Homo sapiens: one gene and its partners. The protein of the gene in region 6 purifies or fractionates together with the protein of the main gene of each other region. This does not show direct contact. Each region holds a gene or a part of one and is shown on either strand. Other genes may lie near its edges.

The links.
Region 1: the proteins of CNKSR3 (region 6) and DENND10 purify together in Homo sapiens (affinity purification with mass spectrometry; one large-scale study listed by BioGRID and IntAct). This does not show direct contact.
Region 2: the proteins of CNKSR3 (region 6) and SAMD10 purify together in Homo sapiens (co-immunoprecipitation; 2 studies listed by BioGRID and IntAct, with this or other methods). This does not show direct contact.
Region 3: the proteins of CNKSR3 (region 6) and AZGP1 purify together in Homo sapiens (co-immunoprecipitation; one large-scale study listed by IntAct). This does not show direct contact.
Region 4: the proteins of CNKSR3 (region 6) and MTCL1 purify together in Homo sapiens (co-immunoprecipitation; one large-scale study listed by IntAct). This does not show direct contact.
Region 5: the proteins of CNKSR3 (region 6) and DIP2B purify together in Homo sapiens (affinity purification with mass spectrometry; 2 studies listed by BioGRID and IntAct, with this or other methods). This does not show direct contact.
Region 7: the proteins of CNKSR3 (region 6) and PTPRK purify together in Homo sapiens (co-immunoprecipitation; one large-scale study listed by IntAct). This does not show direct contact.

What each region holds. Positions count from the first base shown.
Region 1 is NC_000010.11:119,117,613-119,121,112, forward strand, and holds part of DENND10 (DENN domain-containing protein 10), read left to right. Parts: coding exon 1-55; intron 56-2,728; coding exon 2,729-2,840; intron 2,841-3,500. UniProt on the Homo sapiens protein: Guanine nucleotide exchange factor (GEF) regulating homeostasis of late endocytic pathway, including endosomal positioning, maturation and secretion, possibly through activating Rab proteins such as RAB27A and RAB27B.
Region 2 is NC_000020.11:63,973,616-63,976,642, reverse strand, and holds the end of SAMD10 (sterile alpha motif domain-containing protein 10), read left to right. Parts: intron 1-810; coding exon 811-951; intron 952-1,110; coding exon 1,111-1,133; 3' UTR 1,134-2,527; downstream 2,528-3,027.
Region 3 is NC_000007.14:99,966,230-99,969,630, reverse strand, and holds the end of AZGP1 (zinc-alpha-2-glycoprotein precursor), read left to right. Parts: intron 1-1,200; coding exon 1,201-1,476; intron 1,477-2,344; coding exon 2,345-2,628; 3' UTR 2,629-2,901; downstream 2,902-3,401. UniProt on the Homo sapiens protein: Stimulates lipid degradation in adipocytes and causes the extensive fat losses associated with some advanced cancers. May bind polyunsaturated fatty acids.
Region 4 is NC_000018.10:8,830,417-8,833,278, forward strand, and holds the end of MTCL1 (microtubule cross-linking factor 1), read left to right. Parts: intron 1-1,190; coding exon 1,191-1,424; 3' UTR 1,425-2,362; downstream 2,363-2,862. UniProt on the Homo sapiens protein: Microtubule-associated factor involved in the late phase of epithelial polarization and microtubule dynamics regulation.
Region 5 is NC_000012.12:50,503,566-50,507,784, forward strand, and holds the start of DIP2B (disco-interacting protein 2 homolog B), read left to right. Parts: upstream 1-1,419; 5' UTR 1,420-1,575; coding exon 1,576-1,675; intron 1,676-4,219. UniProt on the Homo sapiens protein: Negatively regulates axonal outgrowth and is essential for normal synaptic transmission. Not required for regulation of axon polarity. Promotes acetylation of alpha-tubulin.
Region 6 is NC_000006.12:154,402,686-154,406,185, reverse strand, and holds part of CNKSR3 (connector enhancer of kinase suppressor of ras 3), read left to right. Parts: 3' UTR 1-3,500. UniProt on the Homo sapiens protein: Involved in transepithelial sodium transport. Regulates aldosterone-induced and epithelial sodium channel (ENaC)-mediated sodium transport through regulation of ENaC cell surface expression.
Region 7 is NC_000006.12:127,975,100-127,978,599, reverse strand, and holds part of PTPRK (receptor-type tyrosine-protein phosphatase kappa isoform b precursor), read left to right. Parts: intron 1-1,545; coding exon 1,546-1,677; intron 1,678-1,817; coding exon 1,818-1,943; intron 1,944-3,500. UniProt on the Homo sapiens protein: Regulation of processes involving cell contact and adhesion such as growth control, tumor invasion, and metastasis. Negative regulator of EGFR signaling pathway. Forms complexes with beta-catenin and gamma-catenin/plakoglobin.

The DNA of each region.
Region 1 (3,500 bases), on a different chromosome or scaffold from region 6:
TTCCTTAGTAAGGATTTTGATGCCCGAAAGGCCTACCTGGCTGGCTCCATCAAAGGTAAGAAGGGAAAAAACAGGCCAGGGACGGTGGCTCACGCCTGTAATCCCAACACTTTGGGAGGCCAAGGCGGGTGGATCACGAGGTCAGGAGATCGAGACCATCCTGGTTAACATGGTGAAACCTCGTCTCCACTAAAAATACAAAAAATTAGCCGGGCGTGGTGGCACCCGCCTGTGATCCCAGCTACTCGGGAGGCTGAGGCAGGAGAATCAGTTGAACCTGGAAGGCGGAGGTTGCAGTGAGCCGAGATTGTGCCACTGCACTCCGGCCTGGGCAACAGACGAGACTCCGTCTCAAAAAAAAAACAAAAAACAAAAAAAAGAAGGTAAAAACAAAACCCTTCCAACAACAAAATCCCCAAGCCAAAAACAGTCTCATTAGATCCTATTGTGCCTAATAGAATAATTACATAATTAGATTATCTAATTAGAATTATCTAGTTATTAGATAATTCTAATCCTTCCATACGTTATTTTCATTTACATATTTTTCATATCATTTGTACACAAGAGGGTGCCTTTAACCCCCGTATTTCCTTATTGAGTTAGAATTCTCTCAGAGGAAAACAGGTTTTTGTGGTGTTTGTTTCCATATTATTCTATTGGCTATTTTAGAAATATTTTCTCGCTGGTGGGCTGAATTTTGTGCCTCGAGGTCTTCATGGATTACATTTCTTTTCTTAGATCTTAGCAGTTATCTCTGTCATCTGAAGAGCCCAAGGCCTTGACCACAAACTCCTAATTTAAGTTCCAGCTGGAAAATCCAAAATGCAGACAGCTCAGGCCTAAGCCACAGACTTCAGGGTCCCTGAGCAGGAGGCGAGGGGAACTCTGAAGGCGAGGCTGCCCTCTGTCATGTCCTCCCATGGTGCCCATCTGTCTTTCCTTTTGATCCCGCTGTTCTTTGAATTTTCTCAGCATCCCTGTTGAGGTGGTAGGTGTTTGTCAGGCTAACTTAAGGACTTAAGTAATTATACTGGGGGACATGGGGGAGTTAATAGACTTTTTTTTTTCCTTTTGAGACAGGGTCTTGCTTTGTTACTGAGGCTGAAGTGCAGTGGTACAATTACGGCTCACTGTAGCCTTAACTTCCTGGGCTCAAGCAATCCTTCCACCTCAGCCTCCCGAGTAGCTGGGACTACAGGTGCACACCACCATGCCCAGCTAATTTTTTTTTTTTTTTTTTTTTTTGAGTCAAGAGTCTCACTGTGTCACCCAGGCTGGAGTGCAGTGGCACAATCTCAGCTCACTGCAACCTTTGCCTCCCAGGTTCAAGTGATTCTCGTGCCTCAGCCTCCCAAGTAGCTGGGACTACAGGCACCTGCCACCACACCCAGCTAATTTTTTTTTTTTTTTTCTTTGAGATGGAGTTTTGCTCCAACAAGTGTTGCCTAGGCTGGGTGGCGCGATCTTGGCTCACCGCATCCTCCGCCTCCTGGGTTCAAGTGCCTCAGCCTCCCAAGTAGCTGGGATTACAGGCATGTGCCACCACGCCTGCCTAATTGTGTATTTTTAGTACAGATGGGGTTTCTCCATGTTGGTCAGGCTGGTCTCGAACTCCTGACCTCAGGTGATCCGTCTGCCTCGGCCTCCCAAAGTGCTAGGATTCCAGGCATGAGCTTCCGCGCCCGGCCGCTAATTTTTGTATTTTTAGTAGAGATGGGGTTTCACCATTTTGGCCAGGCTGGTCTCGAACTCCTGACCTCAGGTTATCCACCCGCCTCGGCCTCCCAAAGTGCTGGAATTACAGGTGTGAACCACTGTGCCCAGCCTAATTTTGTATTTTTGGTAGAGATGGGGTTGCACCATGGTGGCCAGGCTGGTGTCAAACTCCTGACCTCAGATGACCTGCCTGCTTAGGCCTCCCAAAGCGCTGGGATTACAGTGTGAGACACTGTGCCCAGCCCCAGCTAATTTTTAAACATTTTTTAGAGACAGTCTCCCTGTGTTGCCCAGGCTGGTCTCAAACTCCTGGGCTCAAGTGATCCTCCCACCTTGGCCTCCCAAAGTGTTGGTATTACAGACATGAGTCACCCTGCACCTGGCAGACATTTTTTTTTTTTTTTTTAAATCAGGAAGTTTTAATGATACAGAAAGATGCTGGTTCCCTTCACATCAGTTGTTTCAGTTTTTTGTGAGTCTAGCTTCCTCTATGCATCCCATCATAGAGTCCCTTGCGGGGCAGAGCACACGTCCTGGGAAGCTGACATAGGATAGATCTACTCTTCCACCAAATAAAGTGTTTGTATGCTTTACAACATTTGCCTAAATTCTCTGTATTAAAAATAATTTTGTACGTCAGGTGCTGTGACTCACACCTGTAATCCCAACACTTTGGGAGGCTGAGGTGGGTGGATCACTTGAGGTCAGGAGTTCGAGATTAGCCTGGCCAACATGGTGAAACCCCGTCTCTACTAAAAATACAAATATTAGCCAGGTGTGGTGGTGTGTGCCTGTAATCCCAGCTACTCGGGAAGCTGAAGCAGGAGAATCGCTTGAGCCCAGGAGGCAGAGGTTGCGGTGAGCAACTATCTTGCCACTGCATTCCAGCCTGGGTGACAGAGTGAGACTCGGTCTCAAAAAAAAAAGAAAAAAGAAAAAAAGAAAAAAAAATCTTTATTTCTTTGCATGATGTGTAATGCAGTAACATTACAATTTCTCTTTTTTGAAGACATTGTATCTCAGTTTGGAATGGAAACTGTTATCTTACACACAGCACTGATGCTAAAGAAAAGAATTGTGGTGTATCACCCCAAGATAGAAGCGGTCCAGGAGTTCACCAGGTATCACCTCTAATTATAAAAAAGTGTTAACTTTGTTGGCAGACAGTTCGCAGCACTAGATGTTACTGTGTGCTCTGCTGTGTTGCACATTTGCTATAAATAGCATGTGGTGAAATACCACCTTTGGTCTGAAGTTTCTGTTTAGCTCTAGTAGTTCAAGGTTACTGATTTGGACTATTTATGACTATTTTAGAGCAGGGGATTAGCAAACTTTTCCTTGCCAGACAGTAAATATTTTAGGTTTGTGAGCCATATGGTCACTGCCCCAACTACTCAACTGCCTAGGTAGCACAAAAGCAACCATGGAGGACACGTACATAAATGACTCAGCATGGCTGTGGTCAATGAAATTTTATTTTCAAGGACAGGCAGCTAGGCTGTGGGCCATAGTTTGCTGACCCGTTTCAGGTAAATTGTTCCTTCTGTTCAGTTTTATCAAAGACTCTTTTTTTTTTCTTGTTTTAATTAAAAAGTTTTAGAGCAGGACAAAGACTCTTACTTTGATAGTACATATAGATTTTTTAAATTTTATTTTCATTTTTAGTAGAGATGGGGTCTTGCTGTGTTGCCCAGGGTGGTCTCAAACTCATAGGCTCCAGTGATCCTCATGCCTTGGCCTCCCAAAGTGCTGGAATTACGGGTGTGAGCCACTGTGCCCGG
Region 2 (3,027 bases), on a different chromosome or scaffold from region 6:
TTACAGGCATGCACCACCACGCCTGGCTAATTTTGTATTTTTAGTAGAGACAGGGTTTCACTGTGTTGCCCAGGATGATCTCGAACTCCTGATCTCAGGTGATCCGCCTGCCTCAGCCTCCCAAAGTGCTGGGATTACAGGTGTGAGCCACTGCGTCCGGACCTCTCTGCCTTTCTTCTGTGTCTCTTCCCATCTCTCTGTGCTGTCTTCATCTGGCTTTTCTCTGTTCCGTCCCTGCCTTTTGCTCTCCTTCCTTTCCCTCTGCCTCTCTCCTTTAAGTCTCTGTGTGTTTTGCTGATTCTCTTTCTCCCTCTGAGTCTCTCTGAACCTCGCTTCCTCTCTCTCTCCTCCCTCTCTCCGAGTCTCTCTGTGCCCGTGCTTCCCGCTTCCTCTCTCTCTCCTCCCTTTTTCTCTTTCAGTCCCTGCTTCTGCCTTGGCTCAGTTTGTTGTTTGTTTGTTTGTTTGTTTCTGAGAAGGAGTCTCGCTCTGTCATCCAGTCTGGAGTGCAGTGGCACGATCTCAGCTCACTGCAACCTCCACCTCCCAGGTTCAAGTGATCCTCCCGCCTCAGCCTCCCGAGTAGCTGGGACTACAGGCGCACACCACCAAGCCCAGCTAATTTTTATACTTTTAGTAGAAACGGGGTTTCACCATGTTGTCCAGGCTGGTCTTGAACTCCTGACCTCAAGTGATCTGCCCGCCTCGGCCTCCCAAAGTGCTGGGATCACAGGCATGAGCCATGGCACCAGCCTTGCCTTGGCTCTTGATGCCTCTGTTGGCCTCAGCTCAGCCCCTCTTTCCTCTCCCCAGGCCGGGCACTGCTGCGGCTGAATGCGGAGAAGCTGCAGCGGATGGGGCTGGCCCAGGAGGCCCAGAGGCAGGAGGTGCTGCAGCAGGTGCTCCGCCTGCAGGTGCGTGAGGAGGGGCGGAGCCTGCAGCTGCTCAGCCAAGGTCAGTGTGAGGTGCCAGAGAGGCCTGGGGGCTGATGGAGAAGCCCCTCTGAGTGTGGGGTGGGATGACCTCAGGAGGTCGGCTGCAGGCCCCAGTAAGCGCCCTAATGCAGATGATGCCAAAGACCCCACCCCATTCTCACCCTCTTCCATCACACAGCTTCCTTCGGGAAAATGTCCTAGCTGCTGCTGAGGCTTGAACCCAGACCCCAGCACTGTGATGGGAGTCCACGGCTAGGGAGGAGGCCAAGCTGGCCCCGCAGCGCCTCTTGGACCCTGCGGGATGCCGGGGCGGCCAGGCTGGCCCAACGGACAGACAGGACCAGGATCACACCTCCAGGCGCCTCTGGTTGGACATTCCAGGTCGTGCCCTGGGGCTGGGTGGGTAGGGGGCTGCTTGAGTGTGGCCCCACCTCCTGGGACCTGAGCCCAAGCCCTCCCCTGGTGCAGCTGGCAGCATGTGGGGCAGCTGCCTGGAGCCAGAACCGGTTTGGATGTCCCCCCTAGACTCCCAGGGAGTCTGTTTATTTACATTCCCCTCTCCACGTGATGTCGGTCCCCCATCGCCTGCTGAGTCACTTGTCTGTCCACCCACCCAGCCCAGTTCTAGGTCGTTCCCCAGCACCTCCAGGTTGGCCCACACAGGTACCATAAGCTGCCTCGGCTCCCTGTGGCTTGTGCCCATGCACCTGCCAGGGCCCAGCAGGCCAACCCATCATCTAGAGTAGTGGCCATCAGCACCCGCCTAACGGGCACCATGCCAAGCACTTTCATCATTATTTATACATCGTCACCACACCCCCTCTATTCATGAGAAGTAAAGCTGAGAAAGGACCAGATTGACCAAGCGCCAGAGACAAAATGTGGCACAACGAGAACCCCAGCCCTGTCCAGGTGGCTCCGCGCCCAGGGCCCAGGCTTAGCAGTGCTCCCTGCCCTATCTTTGGGAAAATCTTGCTTTTATGGTCTTCCCCCCTCGCCCTCAAGAACAAGGGCCTTGTGCGTGGGCCTTCCCATTGCTGCTTTCCCAAGAAGGCCTGGATTCAGGGGAGAGGCCTTCCCAGGGCCACTCCCCTTACACCCTCCCAGAGGCCTGAGCAACCCCTCTCTGGGTGGTTTGGGGCTGGTGCTGCCTGGCGGAAGGACAGTGAGGGCGGCCCTAGCCGCCTCCACCCTCTTGCGCCTCTGCCCTCTCCCAGTCCCCCTGTGGCTTCTGAAAATCTCAGGGACAGATGAGGCTGAGCCCCTAGTCCCCTCTGTGTGCTTTGAGCCTCCAGACTCGAGGCTGGTCACTGCAGGTCCCAGGTGGAATTTGGACAACTGGCCTGGCCGCTCCCATCCTGTAAGCCCCCACCACGGGGAGACCCTCATCCCTGCCCCTGTGTGGCTGCGCAAGTATTCTGCCCGCCTCCCACCATCAGCCTTCGCCCAAGGGGCCCTTCTGCCTCTGCTTCCCTCCCTTCTCCTCTGTCTTGCCCTGGCCCACGCACGCCTGTCTCGTCTTCCTTGTTTTGCTGCACTCACTTTTTTATACTCTGACAAAAAAAAAAAATCAGAAATAAAGCTGGTTCCCAAGTGCTGGCGGTGCTGGGTCTGCGAGGAGAGGGCGTCTGGGCAGCCGCGGCCACCAGGGGGCAGTGGCGTCACGCCCTGGAGGGGCGTCTGGGCAACCCCGCGCAGAGGCTGGAAACAGGGCTCAAGTCACGCCTGTGGGCGGTCCCCAGTGCTGGACACAACGCCCGACACGCTGGAAGGGACGGCCCAGACAGCGCGTGAGGGTCCCGCGGCTGCCGTGACAGAGGACCACGGAGGGGTGCTGAGAACAGCAGACATTCATTCTCTCTGGAGTTCTGGAGGCCGCAGTCCAAAATCCAGCTCCCTCAGGGCCTCCTGGGGCGACTCCTCACCTCTCCAGCTTCCAGTGGCTGCCGGGGGAACTCGGGCGCATGGGCATTACCCGTCTCCGCCTCTGTAATCAGATCACCTCCTCCTCTTCTGTCTCTCAAATCTCCCTCTGTCTCTCTCTTATAAGGATGCTTGGATTTGGGGCCACCTGGGTAATACAGGATAATCTCCT
Region 3 (3,401 bases), on a different chromosome or scaffold from region 6:
GCTATAGAAGAGATAGAAATATATTCATATTCTGTAGCTTTTTTTTTTTTGAGATGGAGTTTTGCTCTTGTCACCCAAGCTGGAGTGCAGTGATGCAATCTCAGCTCACTGCAAACTTTGCCTCCTGGGTTCAAGGGATTCTCCTGCCTCAGCCTCCCGATAACTGGGACTACAGGCTACAGGCATGTGTCACTACTCCTGGTTAATTTTTTTTTTTTTTTTAAGACTGAGTCTTGCTCTGTCTTTCAGGCTGATGTACAATGGCTCCATCTCGGCTCACTACAACTTCTGTCCCCCAGGTTCAAGCGATTCTCCTGCCTCAGCCTCATGAGTAGCTGGGATTACAGGCATGTGCCAGCACACCCAGCAAATTTTTGTATTTTTAGTAGAGATGAGGTCTTACCATGTTGGCCAGGCTGGTCTCAAACTCCTGACCTCAGGTGATCCTTTGGCCTCAGCCTCCCTAACTGCTGGGATTACAGGCATGAGCCACTGCGTCCAGCCTAATTTTATATTTTTGGTAGAGATGGGGTTTCACCATATTGGCCAGGCTGGTCTCGAACTCATGACCTAAGGTGATCCATCCTCCTCAGCCTCTCAAAGTGCTGGGATTACAAGTGTGAGCCACTGGGCCTGGTGCTTTTTTTTTTTTTTTTTTTTTTTTTTTTGAGATAGGGTCTCACTCTGTCACCCAGGCTGAAATGCAGTAGTGTGATTTTGGCTCATTGCAGCCTTGACTTCCCAGGCTGAAGTGATCCTCCCACCTCAGCCTCCTGAGTAGCTGGGGCTACAGGCATGCACCACCATGCTGCGCTAATTTTTATATTTTTTGTAGTGGTGGGATTTCGCCATATCACCCTGGCTGGTCTGGAACCCCTGGGCTCAAGCGATCCACTCGCTTCAGCTTCTCAAAGTGCTGGGATTACAGGCATGAGCCACAGCGCCCAGGCTGTAGCTCTCTTAAGGAGGAACATATCTCATCTGAGACAAACCTGAAATGCCAAACCAAACTGAGTTAGCCCCTCTCTGTCTGTTGTATATATTGGAGTAATAACCTATTTGTCTTGATAAAGGGATTGCATGCTTGAATTGCAAAAACCTTTATTTCTTTTGGGTTGCCCAATGTGCAAGACTAAGAGTTATTTTGATAAATTTCTCACCAGGCTGACTGTCTCTCTGTGGGGTCGGGGGAGTTTTCAGGGTCTCACGTATTGCAGGGAAGGTTTGGTTGTGAGATCGAGAATAACAGAAGCAGCGGAGCATTCTGGAAATATTACTATGATGGAAAGGACTACATTGAATTCAACAAAGAAATCCCAGCCTGGGTCCCCTTCGACCCAGCAGCCCAGATAACCAAGCAGAAGTGGGAGGCAGAACCAGTCTACGTGCAGCGGGCCAAGGCTTACCTGGAGGAGGAGTGCCCTGCGACTCTGCGGAAATACCTGAAATACAGCAAAAATATCCTGGACCGGCAAGGTACTCACTGCTTCCTGCTCCCCAGTACTGAGCCCAGAATAAAAGACGATCTCAGGCTAGGAGCTCAGGCAACATCTTAGTCCGGTCTCATCTGTTCCTGGATGTCCCTCAGACCCCCAGCTTTCATCTTTTAGGATTTATTCCTTCCCTGGGATAATATAATTTGTGGTCCAAAAAGAACATCATCAAAATTTCAGGCAGAATGGGCCAGGAAGGCCATTCTTTCTTGATGAGTGTCCCCAAATCATCTCCAATTAACAGACAAGGAGCTTGAGGTTAGGGAGGTGAGGGTAACACTGTCTGTAAGAGGCAGAGCTGGGACTCAAATTCCAGATTTCAGATTCCAAATCCCATCGTTTTTTATCTCTACAATGATGCCTCCCATCTGGGTGGTGGAGAGAAGGGAGGCGTGTAAAATGTCAGCCCCAGAAGGACAAGAGCAAGCCAGTGTGAGCGGAATTGATGGCTGCAAGCTGAGACTTGGATTGGAGACGTAGTGAGACTCAGGATTGTGCAGTGCTGCAGGGAAGTGGTTGCTGGATAGAGGCATGGGCTGAACCAAGCAGCTGGACTGAGACTGGGGGACAGAACTCCAAAGCCCACTGAGATGTGGGAAAACATGGAGAAGCACACGGAGCATTCACAACTTATTGCCGTCAGAGTCAATACATGGGTGAGGTGGGGATTGGGCAAGAGGGAAAGCGTCAGCCTTCCCTGATATTCTGGAAAGTCTCCCGGGGCTGGGGGTGGGCAGGTACAGAGCTTCGAGCTCTGCTGATCGCTGACATCCAGGGGTGGGGGTAGGAAGAGACCTGGGCCGGGAGAAGTCCACCTCAAGCCTGCAGTGTCACACTCTATCCCTCCACAGATCCTCCCTCTGTGGTGGTCACCAGCCACCAGGCCCCAGGAGAAAAGAAGAAACTGAAGTGCCTGGCCTACGACTTCTACCCAGGGAAAATTGATGTGCACTGGACTCGGGCCGGCGAGGTGCAGGAGCCTGAGTTACGGGGAGATGTTCTTCACAATGGAAATGGCACTTACCAGTCCTGGGTGGTGGTGGCAGTGCCCCCGCAGGACACAGCCCCCTACTCCTGCCACGTGCAGCACAGCAGCCTGGCCCAGCCCCTCGTGGTGCCCTGGGAGGCCAGCTAGGAAGCAAGGGTTGGAGGCAATGTGGGATCTCAGACCCAGTAGCTGCCCTTCCTGCCTGATGTGGGAGCTGAACCACAGAAATCACAGTCAATGGATCCACAAGGCCTGAGGAGCAGTGTGGGGGGACAGACAGGAGGTGGATTTGGAGACCGAAGACTGGGATGCCTGTCTTGAGTAGACTTGGACCCAAAAAATCATCTCACCTTGAGCCCACCCCCACCCCATTGTCTAATCTGTAGAAGCTAATAAATAATCATCCCTCCTTGCCTAGCATAACAGAGAATCCTTTTTTTAACGGTGATGCGCTGTAGAAATGTGACTAGATTTTCTCATTGGTTCTGCCCTCAAGCACTGAATTCATCTGAAACTCTTGGTTTCCCCTGGAGGCCATGGTTCCTGGGCACCTTGACCTGGGCAATCCCAAGTGTGGCCTGAACCCCCTTTCCCTTGGGGATTGTTCAGGTGTCCCTAGACGCCTTGTGGTATTGTACCTAATACCCATGAAGGGAGAGGATGATATTACTTGCCAGTGTACACCCCCCTGTGATATTGTTCATAATGTCCAGAGTGAAGAAAGATGATATTACTCCCAATATCACAGAAGGTGTACACCCCCCCTTGATATTGTTCCTAATACCCAGTTGGGGAGGGGAGAATATCTCTCCCAATATACAAGGGGTGTTTAAACTCTCTGTGATATTGTTCCTAATATTCAGGGGGGACAAGGATGATATTACCCAAATATTGCAGGGGTTGTACACCCCCCCTTTGAT
Region 4 (2,862 bases), on a different chromosome or scaffold from region 6:
CTTCTGGAAGCCTGTGGCTCCCACGCTGTCCTCGGGCCATGCTGTCTCTGCCGTGTTCCATCTTCTCCCGAGTGACACTGCCCATTCCGTGCAGCCGTCTGTCCTTCCCCCGCTGCTGCTCCCCTGCACCACTGGCTGGGCTGTCCTCATCCTGGTCTTTTCAGTTGCTTGTCACATCTTTTTAAATCCTCCAACTCACTTCCTTTCTTTGAGGGTCCTTGTTCTCTGTCATCCTTCCTGTGCCTTCCATTCAGTTCACCTCAAGCTTCCAGTGTCTGAGTGTCATTCCAGCCAGCGGGCTCCATGCTGGGCAACTCAGTTTTCTCATGCCACAGCTTTTTACATTTCTGTGTATCAGCAAATTCCAAATTTGGGTGTCCTGGTTTTGTAACATGTAAGGACAAGGAGCTCAACATTCTTTAAAAACAAAGTAGCTTGAGAATAAGGATTCTAGGTGATTTGCACATGGTTGAGTGTGTCTTGCATCACCTGCTCGCAGAACATTAGGATGCCTGAAACACAAAACCACCAGTACATTCTGATTCTACCTTTTTAAAATGCTGCTGCAATTGAACAGTCATTAAAGAAAACCAGACCCAAATTAAAATTTCTGCCTGCAGCATTTTTGCCATGTTGTGGGAGTTTGTTTAAGCTACTCCCAGTCAATTTCAAATAAACAGTAGCAGAGTTCGTTTAAGACGACTGCCATTGCTAACACAGCTGAATGAAATCAGAGGTCTCTTTGTGGGCTCCCAGTAGATCCAGGCCCTGTAGGACCAGTTCACTTGTCCACTGTAGCTAAATAGATCATACAAAAGGGCCAAATGAACAGATCTACCAGATAGGAATATGATGAAGTGGCCTGTGGAGACCGCTGCCACAGTCACTGTGTCATGCCTTCTGTATACCCCAGCCCAATTCTAAAGGAGCTTTGCAAGCTGACTCATCTCACAGTATTGCTGTGTTTAATCATAATTGGTCTCTTCCCATTCATGTCACTGATCATTTGTGTTGAATTCTTTATTATTTTAAGTTATTCTGCATGAGCATAGAAAGTAGTTAATATTCACGAGTTGCCTGTGGTGTATACTTCATCTCACTTGAGTCTGTTGAGAAGTGTGTTTGGGGGAATCATCCACTGGTGACACTGCCGGTCTGAGTAACCCTGTCTCCCTTTCTCGGCTCTGAAGGAACTACCTTGTTCTGCACTAGCTCCATCCCTAGAGCCCTGCTTCTCCAGGCCCGAGAGACCAGCAAACCGTCGCCCTCCGTCCCGTTGGGCCCCACATTCCCCCACTGCCTCACAGCCTCAGTCACCCGGAGACCCGACGTCCTTGGAGGAGCATGGTGGCGAGGAGCCGCCCGAGGAGCAGCCACACCGAGATGCAAGCTTGCATGGATTATCACAGTATAATTCACTGTAATTTGCATAACCACACCATCACCATGAACAAAACTCTGCCCAACAGGAGAGATCTAGTTTTCTCAAGGTCAAAGAATGTTTTTTAAAAACACAAAGCTGCTGAATGTTCAACCTGTGAAACTGAGATGTTTCTAGAATGAAACAGTAAATGTGCCTGTAATAACTTAATTTTTTTCATAGCTCAGAAAACTATTTTTGTCTCCATCTTTTTTACACACAGTATATTAAACGAAAAGGTAAATAAGGTATAAATAGATTTAAAAAATAAAAGTTTTAAAAAATGTACATTTTAAGAGATTCTGAACACCCTCGCTGTCAATACCTGACTGCCTCTGTTAAATTTGCACTGTTACATTTTGGTTCAGTTTATTTCCATGTTGAATTAGAGTGGATTAAGTTAATTTTATTTTGTCAGTGTTACTGTTTTTTACGAATTTTTTAATGCTTCAGACTGTCTGATTCAGTGAACTTTTTGTAGTGAAAAAGCCATGAAGCCAGTAGACAAGACAGATATTCTGTATGCTGGAGGGGATACAGGATGATTTTGAAAAGGTACAAAGTCCTCAGTGGGCTTAGAAAATTCACTGTATGATCCTTATATTATCCTACTTGGCTTGCACGTCTTCGGGTGCATGTATATACCGCTACTGTGTCCTCGCCATCACCTAAATGTGACTCAGTCTGTTCCACTGTAATATGTTGTGAATTTCCTTGTACTGTACTTTTATTGTTGGTCTTCTTGCATCGATGATCCAACAGCAACACCATTTTTAAATTATTGTGAAAAGATTAACTGGCAATGTACAGAGTTTACTCAAAGTTTTCTTAAGGGAAAACACTACAAAAAGTCACAAGGATACCAAATGGAAACACATGATGATGCCTCTGGGTCTGTATGAGACCGTGATGAAGTAGAAATAAAGCCCTTCTGAGATGGCAGCATGTCTCGGTCTCTCATTTCACACACCCTCCATCTTTTCCTAAGGACTCAGATGGAAAGTTTTCCATAGCTAGGGGAATGAGGGAGAGAGGAGATCATGTAAAGAGGCAACAGCTGCTAATATATCTTGCTGGGAATGCACTCTTTGGGTACGTGATCATGTTGCAGTTTTACTGTTCCCCGTAAGAGAGTCCTAGGATAGAGAGACAGCTTTATTGTTGAAAAGCCAAAACTGTGGTGTGGGCAGGGATGTGAGGAAACTGGTTACCTACAAGTCAGAGTGTGCCCGGCCTCTCTGCCCGCTCTGCTCATTAGGAGAGAGGGAGTGGCCAATAACTCTAGAAGAGGCCTTTCCATCTCTGATCCTGAGATGAGCCCGCCTCTCAGTGTTTGGTGGAGTAGAAAGAAGTGATGCTACTGAAGAGCCCAAAAAGAATGATTTCAGGCTGAAGCTTCTGGCTTTAGTATTTCATTTAGTGCTTCATTAACCCAACAATTT
Region 5 (4,219 bases), on a different chromosome or scaffold from region 6:
AGCCGCCATGTTCTCAGCTCACTGTAACCTTGGCCTCCCGGGTTCAAGCGACGTTCCTACCTCAGCTCCCCCAGGTAGCTGGGATTACAGGCATGTGCCACTACTCCCGGCTAATTTTTGTGTTTTTAGTAGAGACGGGGTTTCGCCATGTTGGCCAGGCTGGTCTCGAACTCTTGACCTCAGGTGATCCGCCCACCTTGGCCTCCCAAAGTGCTGGGATCATAGGTGTGAGCCACTGCACCTAGCCTTGGACCCTCTTCATATTAAATTAAAATTAATGTTTTTGGAACACCTATTAGGCCACAGAGTGAGGAGGATGAGTTAAAGTAAGTTCCCTCCTTGTAAGTAGTTAGAAGTATAGAAAGAAAGAAGTGGACCTGCTCTCTATTGTCTTTTTCTTTTCTTTAGACGGAGTGTTTGCTCTCTTGCCCGGGCTGGAGTGCAATGACGCGATCTCAGCTTACTGTAACCTCTGCCTCCTGGGTTCAAGTGATTCTCCTGCCTCAGCCTCTTGAGTAGCTAGGAGTACAGGCATCCGCCACCACGCCCGGCTAATTTTTGTATTTTTATTGGAGACGGGGTTTCACCATGTTGGCCAGGCTGGCCTAGTACTCTTTTTTTTTTTTTTTTGAGTCGGAGTCTCGCGCTCACGCTCAGGCTGGAGTGCAGTGGCGTGATCTTGGCTCACTGCAAGCTCCGCCTCCCGGGTTCACGCCATTCTCCTGCCTCAGCCTCCCGAGTAGCTGGGACTACAGGCGCCCGCCACCACGCCCGGCTAATTTTTTGTACTTTTAGTAGAGACGGGGTTTCACCGTGTCAGCCAGGATGGTCTCGATCTCCTGACTTCGTGATCCACCCGTCTCGGCCTCCCAAAGTGCTGGGATTACAGGCGTGAGCCACCGCGCCCGGTCGGCTAGCCTGGTACTCTTAACCTCAGGTGATCCACCAGCCTCAGCCTCCCAAAGTGCTAGGATTACAGGCGAGAGCCACCGCGCCTGTCTTTTTAAAAGCTAAAACTGAAACGGAAACAGAGCTCCTGGCAGATAGGACCAGGAGCCACAGCGAAGGAGGTGGCCTGTGATTAGGTTTTTATAAATGGGCAGGTATTAATCAGGGAAAATGGAGTAAAGGACACGATAGACATACATTGCTAAGTCTAGTATTGGAAAAAGTAAGGCCTGGGACCCCTAAAAACTTGCTCGAGAGTGAAAGGTAAATGCTATGTGTCCACACTACTGTGGTAAAGCCGACAGTCCATACCATGAGCCCATTTCGCGCAGGGAAATTCGAGTGGTGGGCTTGGGCCCGTCGTTCTGGTAGCTTCCCAGTAGAGGGCGCCGTAAGCATATGCGTCTTCAGCCTGACTGGGCTGGAGAGGCGGTGCGTCCTCCTGGCCGGGGGGCGGGGGCCGTCGCGCTCACGTGACCTTTGCTCATGGCGGCGGCGGCGGCGGCGGCGGTGCTGGTGGTGCTCGGCGGCCGGAGCCGGATCCTGTAGCCGGGTGTGGGCCCGTGTCTGTCCGTCCCTCCTTCGGCCCCCTCTCTTGTCTTCCGGAGTGTGGCTGGCGGAGCTGGGATGGCGGAACGAGGCCTGGAGCCGTCGCCGGCCGCGGTGGCGGCGCTGCCGCCTGAAGTGCGGGCGCAGCTGGCGGAGCTGGAGCTGGAGCTCTCGGAGGGTAGGAGCCGGGCCGGGGAGAGGGCGCCCGGGGCCCTGCGGATCGCGGCGACTTGGGAGACAGGTCCCCGCCGCGCGCTCTGGCGGCCGTGCGGCGAGGGGGACGAGGGTGTAGAGAACCTGGCCTGGCGCTCCACGACCGTTTTCCCTCCTCTCCCACCCCATTAAGTGGTTTCCTGTGGCTTTCATTGTTTTCCCATGGAGGGGACTAAGTAAGGGCTTGTGGAAAGGTCCTCCCGGGCCCACACTGCTTCTGCGCTTCCTGCCCCCCAAAACCCGAGACAAAGCTGCGCCCTCCCGCTTCTGCCCAGGCGTCTGGCCCAGGTGGGGTGAGGGGTAGGGCTGCGAGGAGGGTGGCTGACAGCTTTCTCCTTTCCTCTCCCCTTTTCGTGGAGGGCTCCACGCCTTGTTCCAGCCCCCCCTTCCCCCTTTCAAAAAGAGACACATGGGAAATCCGCAGCATCATTTCTTCTCTTTCCTTTAACAATGCGCGATGCCTCCCCAGTGACAGGAGTGAGACACAAGCGGGTGAGCCATTTAGGGTCCTAGGAAGATAAGAAGCAATGGCATTAACCCAGAGAGACACACGGTGCTGCTTTTAGACCACCTTTGTCATAAGAAGTTTTTTTTTTTCCTGGTGCCTGTTATTCGGGCCGAATTTTCCGCATCTGGTCACCTTTTGGAGTCTTTGATGAAGGAAGGAGAGGAGGCTACCGTTTACTTGCAAATCCTGGCTGGCATTCTTTCTTTTGACAATGGATTGGGACAGGGAGGGTTCGATTTATTTTCAGAATTAAAAAAAAAAAATGGGATAAATCAAGCCACTGTTATTAGAGAACTCCTTGTACAACAATGAGAGAAACACAGTGCTCCGTTGTGGGCATGTGATCAGGCTTCTGGGGCAGTTGTGATCAGTTCTGTGTAAAGTTCCTGTTTTTATCACTGGCTGCCCCTGAGACAAAAGCAGCATTTTCTCCAAGCTTGATACCAGTACTTTGATTGTGTCTCCAGAGTTGCATATTCTTACTGAGTTCCTTGTGGAAGGCCCTCTTCACTAGCATTTTTCAAGTGGATCAAAAACTCTTGATTGGAAAAGAAGAATGTGACCAACTCCCAGGAGCTTATTAAACATTACTTATTGTTTACTTATTAAGGCATTATGGTTCCCTCCCCTCTGAGAATCCTTTACAATGAAAAACCAAAAATAGAGTTGAATGTTATAAATCCTGTTGGGCACTGAAGGAAATAATTATTTTTAATAACCCTTTTAATAACCCAATGTGTAGGAAAGTGCTGTTTTTACCTGTACTTAACTATCAACATGTTATTTTTCAATTAATCCAATTTTCAAGTTATTCTTCGGCCAGTCCCGGGAATCACTGGTATTAGATTAGTTTGTTTCTGTGAAGTGTTTAAGAAGATAGGAATCCTCTGGGTTTGTCTGCCCAGTTATACCTTAAGTTCCCCCCGCTTCGAAAATCGAGGAGCTTTTTGCATTACCATCAATTCTGTCTCTCAAGATAACTCATTCTTCTCCTAGACTAAAGCATTGACATTAAATCTGTGTTGACTTGCATTAAAATCTGACTTTTAAAACTGCTATTTGAAAGTAACAAATCATCTAGCTTTGATTAGAGAGAGGTTTGCCTGGATGCTTGCGTCAGAGGGAGATTAAAAATAGGAGTTGATTGCTTTCACACGGAGAGGGAAATCCTGGAAGCTCCTTATTCTGGGTATATCTGCTTCCAGCTGATTGTTGTTTACATCTCTGGGTGTTTCTAGACATCTCTAGAATGTCTAGAAACATTCTGAGGAACTATTTCTAGGACCCACACTGATTAGCTCACCTCTCTCTCCTTCAGAAAGGTGTGAAACTTCTACAAATTGTGAATGCCAAGGCTTAAACATTTTAAGGACAAGTGCATGGTTTGCTTTCCAATGAAGGATTATTTTGGTTGGCATCTGACTTGGTTTGAATTTGTTTCTTATAGATATACTACACTTCTTGTATTTCATTTGTTTTAGCAATGGATGACTGGAAAAAATACAATTGAAAAACTTGGGCCTGCAGTGTCAGCATATTGGTCATCTTTCTTGCTTAAAGTACAGGGGATGGTTGGCTGGAGAAGTGGATAGACATTAGGAATTCAAGTGAAGTTAAAATAATCCAAAAGTCCCCATATCTGTGTAGTATGGTGTTATTTGTGATGCCTGTAGCATATTTGGAGCTAAGGTTTGTTCGTTTTGCATTTTCTCTACAGTTACTCTGCTCTAACATAAGTACTTTGTCTTTTTTTGTTTTAGATGCTTTTCTTTCGTTTGTTTTTTTTGAGATGGAGTCTCACACTGTTGCCCGATTTTAGCTTACCGCAACCTCCGCCTCCCAGGGTCAAGCAGTTCTCCTGCCTCAGCCTCCCCAGTAGCTGGGATTACAGGCAAGCGCCACTACTGCCGGGCTAATTTTTTTTGTATTTATAGTAGAGACCGGGTTTCACCGTGTTGGCCAGGCTGATCTTAAACTCCTGACCTCAAATGATCCACCAAC
Region 6 (3,500 bases):
GGGAACAAATTCAGAGGATCTTAGGTGCTGGCTTGTGGAGACAAAAGGAGGGAAATGGGTAGAGCCTGTTTGTCTTGCTTCCCCAGAGATAGAATGTGAAGACACGCGCTAGAAATCGCAGTCCTGGCCAGAGACGTTATGGTCATTGTGAGGGACTGGTGGCATTGTTCCTTTTTGAGGGGCTGGGGGGACTCAAATTGGTGGCTGTTTTCACACAGATGTGTTGGTTTGTGGTCCAACTTCTTTATCTGAAAAAGCCAGTGAGAAAACATTTTTGATTTGATTTTTCTAAACTATCTACCATATTTTAAGTGTAGCAGCTTTGACTTTGCAATAACGTGGCAAGTATCTGATTTCTCCTTTGAGGCAGAGGTTTAAGTGTAGGCCTGTTACACTTGTTTGATACCTTTTTCATGACAGTCTCAGTATAGATCAGTTGGTACAGAAATACATGAACACATTTTGATAGGGCTTATTTCACACAAAGAAGTTTATGGTTATTTGTGTGGGGTGGTGTTGTTATATATTATTGTCTTTAAGGGAAAAGAAGCTATAAGATTCGCTGACAGCCAAAGTATCATTTAGAAAAGTGAAGCAACAAGATTTAGGTTGATGAAAGATACATGAGTTTGCATTTTGACCTGTTCAGTGTCTGTCTTCCAGCACGGTGTGTACACTTCTTCAAAATTGTACACAGTTTGCTAATTAGAAATATCTTGGAAAGCCTCATGGTCACTAATTTTCAACTAGCATCAGGTATTTTGAAAACGTGTGTCTGGATATTAACTCTTGTTTAAACTGAATGTATGATATTTTGTTAGAATGGAAAAGTACTATCTTGTTAATTTAAGTATTTTAAATATAGTTGTATATTTTTCTTACTCTTAGTCACCTGTAATTGAAATATTTCTGTTTTGCGTCATACACGAAGCTAGTGAAAAAGAAAGTGCAAGGCATTTTCAGATGAGCAAGTGACTATCGTGGCTGTTGCCAGCAGGGCAGTATTGTTAAAAAAAATCAAAATAAACCCTCCCAAGCATTTTGGGATTTTATGGATTAGAAATGGAAGAACAGGAGAAGCATATGCAAAGTGAAATTGCACGAGGGGAATTTTCTGAGGTATCTTCCTAGGCAGAGCCGAAATCTCCTACTCCAAAATGCCCTTTCTCATACCACCGGAATTGTTGAGTTTGCTGAACTGCCTGGAATTCAGCCCATGAAAATCACTGGAGTTAGGAAACATCTTCCCTTTAAAATGCTTCTGGTGTGGTTAAAGGAACTAGCAACCACTCATGTATAATTACTGTGACTGAATTCAGTCAGGCTGGTTTTTTTTGTTTGTTTGTTTGTTTTTGAGATGGAGTCTCAATCTGTCACCCAGGCTGGAGTGCAGTGGCGCAATCTCAGCTCACTGCAACCTCCACCTTCCAGGTTCAAGCGATTCTCCTGCCTCAGCCTCCCATGTAGCTGGGATTATAGGTGCCCGCCACCATGCCTGGCTAATTTTTGTATTTTTAGTGGAGACGGGGTTTCACTACGTTGGCCAGGCTGGTCTCAAACTCCCAACCTCAACTGATCTGCCGGCCTCAGCCTCCCAAAGTGCTGGGATTACAGGCATGAGCCACCACACCCGGCTCAGTCTGGCTGTTTTCTTCTCTACCTCTAAGACAACTGCCATGAAGATCTGGTATTTCGGCCTGGCGCAGTGGCTCATGCCTGTAATTCCAGAACTTTGGGGGGCCAAGGTGGGTGGATTACCTGGGGTCAGGAGTTCAAGACCAGCCTGGCCAACATGGTGAAACCCTGTCTCTACTAAAAATCAGCTTCGCATGGTGGTGGGCACCTGTAGTCCCAGCTACTCGGGAGGCTGAGGCAGGAGAATCACTTGAACCCTGGAGGCGGAGGTTGTAGTGAGCCAAGATCAGGCCACTGCACTCCAGCCTGGGTGACAGAAGGAGACTCTGTCTCAAAAAAAAAACAAAAAGAAAAAGATCTGGTATTTCATGGAGACATGGAGACCCAAGGGTGTTTGGCAGATGGAGAGAAGAGGCTTGCAGTGTGTGACCACAGGGTGTTCAACACACTAGGAGGGTGGGGTGTGGGCTGGGGAGGTCTCGTGTAGGGCACTGGTGATGAGGAGGGAGCTGTGTACGAGGGGCGAGCCAGCCCTGCCTGTTTTACTCTTGTCTTGAGCTGGCTTTATGCCCAGGAAGTGGGTGGCAACATCTCCTCTTACTCCCCAGATTGTGGGGAGAACTCTAAGAGCTGTAGTTCCACTGGATGATGAGTTAAATCACTCTGGAGGCCTTAGCTGGCTGGTGAGCTCTTTTTCTGTGGGGAAAATGCCACTTGTGAATTGAACAGCCATCCTTTAAGTGAATATTCGGCAGTCAGTCTTCATTATAGGCAGTGGCCAACCAGATTGGTGCTTTTCAGCCTTTGTTCCCTGGAGTCCCAGGACCCGCGAGAGAAGTTCCTGGCTCCTCTACTTGCAGTCACCCTCCACAGCTTCATCTTTCTTTTTATTTGAGGTTTTCTCCTGAATTGTGTTTGAAAAATATATTGCTGCTAAAAAAAAAAAACCTTTGTAAACCTCTACTATGGACATACATAAATAATAGTTTAATATGGATTTCTTAGAAATTAATGGAAACTGCTTGCCTCAGTAGTAATCCAGGTTTAATTGTGGACGTGTGTTCACATATGAAGTTGCTTGATGATGCTTTTTGACAGGATTCTTTATTTTTATTTCTTTAAAAAAAATTTTTTTTTTTTTCTGAGACAGATTCTCACTCTGTCACCCAGGCTAGAGTGCAGTGGTACAATCTCAACTCACTGCAGCCTCTGCCTCCCAGGTTCAGGCAATTCTCCTGCCTCAGCCTCCCAAGTAGCTGGGATTACAGGTGCCCGCCACCACACCTGGCTAATTTTTGTATTTTTAGTAGAGATGGAGTTTCACCATGTTGGCCAGGCTGATCTTGAACTCCTTGACAGGATACTTTACAAGAGTGATTGTTAAAACTCTCCCAGACACAACTCAACACCTACCCCTATTATAATATTTTATAGCATCACTTTTCAATCTTCAAATGAAAATCATGGATGATGAAGCTTACCTTCACTCATAAAAACATCACTCCATTTACTATTCTGAAATGAAACTAGCAGGTAATATAACTAGCCTCTAAAACATACCCATCAGTGACGTTCTAACTGAAACAGATAAGATATTTTATAATGAAATAATTATTTTCATATGTACATATTCTAGCATGGTTATATTACAAGATGTAATTAAACTACTAAGCAGGGCACATACTTTGTATGTGTGTGTATAAATATAAATATGTGAAAAATCACCATGAATGTGGTAGTTACCAATTCAGACCTGCTGCATTGGCAGTTCAATACCAGGAAAGGGGTCGATGTCAGCAGTATGATTTTCTAAAATGTGGCCAATTCTTTAGATAAAGTTCTAGGCATACCTAGTCTGTAATGGC
Region 7 (3,500 bases), about 26 Mb from region 6:
CTCATTGTATTAGTTCATTCTCACACTGCTAATAAAAACATACCTGAGACTGGGTAATTTATAAAGGAAAGAGTTTTAATTGACTCACAGTTCCACAGGGCTGGGGAGGCCTCAGGATCCCTGCAATTATGGCCGAAGGGGAAGCAAACCCGTCCTTCTTCTCATGGTGGCAGGAAGGGGAAGGAGTGCCAAGCAAAGGGGGAAGCCCCTTATAAAACCACCAGATGTCATGAGAACTCACTCACTATCTGGAGAACAGCATGGGGGAAACTGCCTGCATGATTCAATTATCTCCACCTGGTCCTGCCCTTGACATGTGGGGATTATTACAATTCTAGGTGAGATTTGGGTGGGGACACAGAGCCAAACAATATGACTCATGAACCTTCCTGCCTTTCTTAGGAGACACTCATCCCAGCTGCACGTGTAACTTGGTAAGGTTTTGAGGTCATTTAGAAGTAGCCAGGTAAATTATTATTGTCATCTACTCAGATTTATCCTGCAGTCTTCAGCCAACGCTGAATGCCATGGTTGGTAGCATTTCCCAAATGGTGGTAGCATCAGTGAAGTCCAAGAACCAGTTCCTGTGCTGATGTTAAGATTCTTGAAGGACTTAAATAGTAGTATGATACAAATGAGTTACAAGATCATTGAAAATTTTTGTCAGCATTAGGGAACTCTATAATCTACTAATTATTATTATTATTATTGCAAATAATTAGTTTAAATCAAATGGCAATTGTCCAGTCCAGATAAATATTGTTTTTACTACTTCTCCCTTTGGAAAGAGATAATATATTGTGTTCTAATCAAGGAGGACTTGGTTAACAAGGAGCTATCTCCCCGCTTATGTGGGGACAGGAAATATATTGCTGTTATGCTTTGGTGCTTCAGGATCTTAAATGGTTGAGACTGTCATTATGACCTTTGATATATGTTAGAAATGCCCAGGAAGCTGTGGAAGGTGGATTGTCTGCAAGATGTGCAGAATATCCTGGTAGTGTCCACATAATGTAAAAGCACAAGTGTTTGAGCTACTTGTGGTTTTTCTTATTTGGAGTGGAGAAGAGTAAAACAATTTTACTTGCACGCACACACACTATACACATACCCAGATGATTGATAGACATACCAGGGGTTTTGTGCTTACTTTGCCTTCAGCCTCTCAGAGACTGATTACGTTTGGAAAATTGAAATAGCCCAACAGGAACCTTACAGAGGATGTTAACCTCAGAAGCTTTTTAGTTTCTTCTTTTGTATTTGTCCTGTATTTACGTCTTTCAGTAAAGTAAAAACTCAGTTATTGACTTGAATTGCTTTGGAAGCATTGAAGTCTTCCACCAAATTGATTCATTACTGTACTAATTCAGTTCATTCCAGTGGTCTGAATCTCCTATTCCATGGTTTAATCATCACTCTGGCTCCTTCTGCATATGAAGCTATTGCATCTTACTGGTCCTACATTGAAGTGTATTGTATCTGTTTGTACAACCGATCATACATTTTAAGTTTTTATATTTCTCCATCTACCTTGTTTCTTCACAGAGCTACAGGCAACCAGCTGCTTTCATCGTCACACAATACCCTCTGCCAAACACTGTAAAAGACTTCTGGAGATTAGTGTATGATTATGGCTGTACCTCCATTGTGATGTTAAACGAAGTCGACTTGTCCCAGGTTAATGGCTATGGATTGCTTTTATGTACTTATATACAACTTAATAGAGTAGTAATGAATTGCTAAAATCTGCTTTATACTCTCCTAACTAGAAAAAATAATACTCTTTTTTTTTTTCTTTCAAAACGTTCATCATTTAGGGCTGCCCTCAGTACTGGCCAGAGGAAGGGATGCTACGATATGGCCCCATCCAAGTGGAATGTATGTCTTGTTCAATGGACTGTGATGTGATCAACCGGATTTTTAGGATATGCAATCTAACAAGAGTAAGTCACTATCGGATCCTTTGAGCTGATCTAGAATAGGTCAGTCATAACCAAGATGTGGTATAATTTTATTCAGACAACAGGGAGACTACAATTAATAAGCACTATATCATCCACCTCAAAGCTAGTAACCATCTTATGCCTTAGTACTCGAATAAAAATACAGGAAAACAGAAATGCTGGAAGCTAGGTTTTTCGGTCAGTCACTAGACTAGCATATTCTCTCAGGAAATACAGATGCACTGGCTCAGTCAAGTTGGACAGCCTAGGCCTGGCCTCTGAGTGTATGTAGACTTATCTTAAGGATGACTGCATGTTTTATTAGTATTGACATCCAGCCCAGAAATGGCATGTGATAAAAAAAATAAGAACATTGCAATAACAATAATGACAGAGAAACTGTACTGCAGGAGGAAAGAGACATGTTGGATCAACCATTATAGAAGGGTTCCATGTCACTGTTCCAAGTTCATTATTGATTATCCTACCTGCAATTTCATCTTCCTAAACGTCTCAACCTATGGCTCTAAGCAGATCTAAAGGTAGAACCAGTGCTGCTACCACCATGCCTTTTCCCAGCAGCAAAGTAGTAACTGTATCGTCTTTCTCTGACTCCTCATTTGCTTTCCACTACATGACAAATTCAATGTGGGTGGGGAAGATCTTAAAAAAAAAAGTGCTAATAAAGCCCGGGCACAGTGCCTCATGCCTGTAATTCCAGCACTTTGGGAGGCCAAGGCGGGCAGATCATAAGGTCAGGAGTTCAAGACCAGCCTGGCAACGTGGTGAAACCCCATCTCTACTAAAAATACAAAAATTAGCTGGACATGGTGGTGGCATGCCTGTAGTCCCAGCTAGTGGGGAGGCTGAGGCAGCAGAATCATTTGAACCCGGGAGGCAGAAGTTGTAGTGAGCTGAGATCACGCCACTGCACCCCAGGCTGTATAGAGCGAGACTTCGTCCCCCAAAAAAAGATATTAATAAAAACAATTTAGATTATGTAACCAAATAACAAGCAGAATTGGAAAAGAAAACATTAGTAACTTTCATGAAATTAAGCTCTTTTTAGAGAGAAACATTACTCTGTTTTTTAAAGCACCAGCTCTGTGGGTATGTATTTTAAGTGTGTGATTAGGATTATCATGTTTCAGTGTCTCTCATATCAAAATGACTACGTGTGTGTCTGGTTAATAAGTCTATATGTATATAACTATGAGCAGGGAATGGAATCATATCGACTCCTATTGCTCATTTCAGTGGAGAAAAAAAGGATAACTTCAATCATCTCATAATATTCATGCATATCTTAGATGTTAATTTAAATGGAATCTCATTATGTCTGCACATCTGTTACATTATGGTTCTAGTAATATTTGAGTTGGAAAAAAACAGAACTGCTGAAGACAGTAAGGCTTGTCTGTTAATTGAGCAGTTTATGTGAAAAATATTCTAGGAACAGGAACTGAAATGTTATATTTTTGTCAGCATATTTATTTATTTGTTTGCTTACTTATTGAACTGCCTCTGTATTTGGTATTCTGGTCCTTATTAGTACAT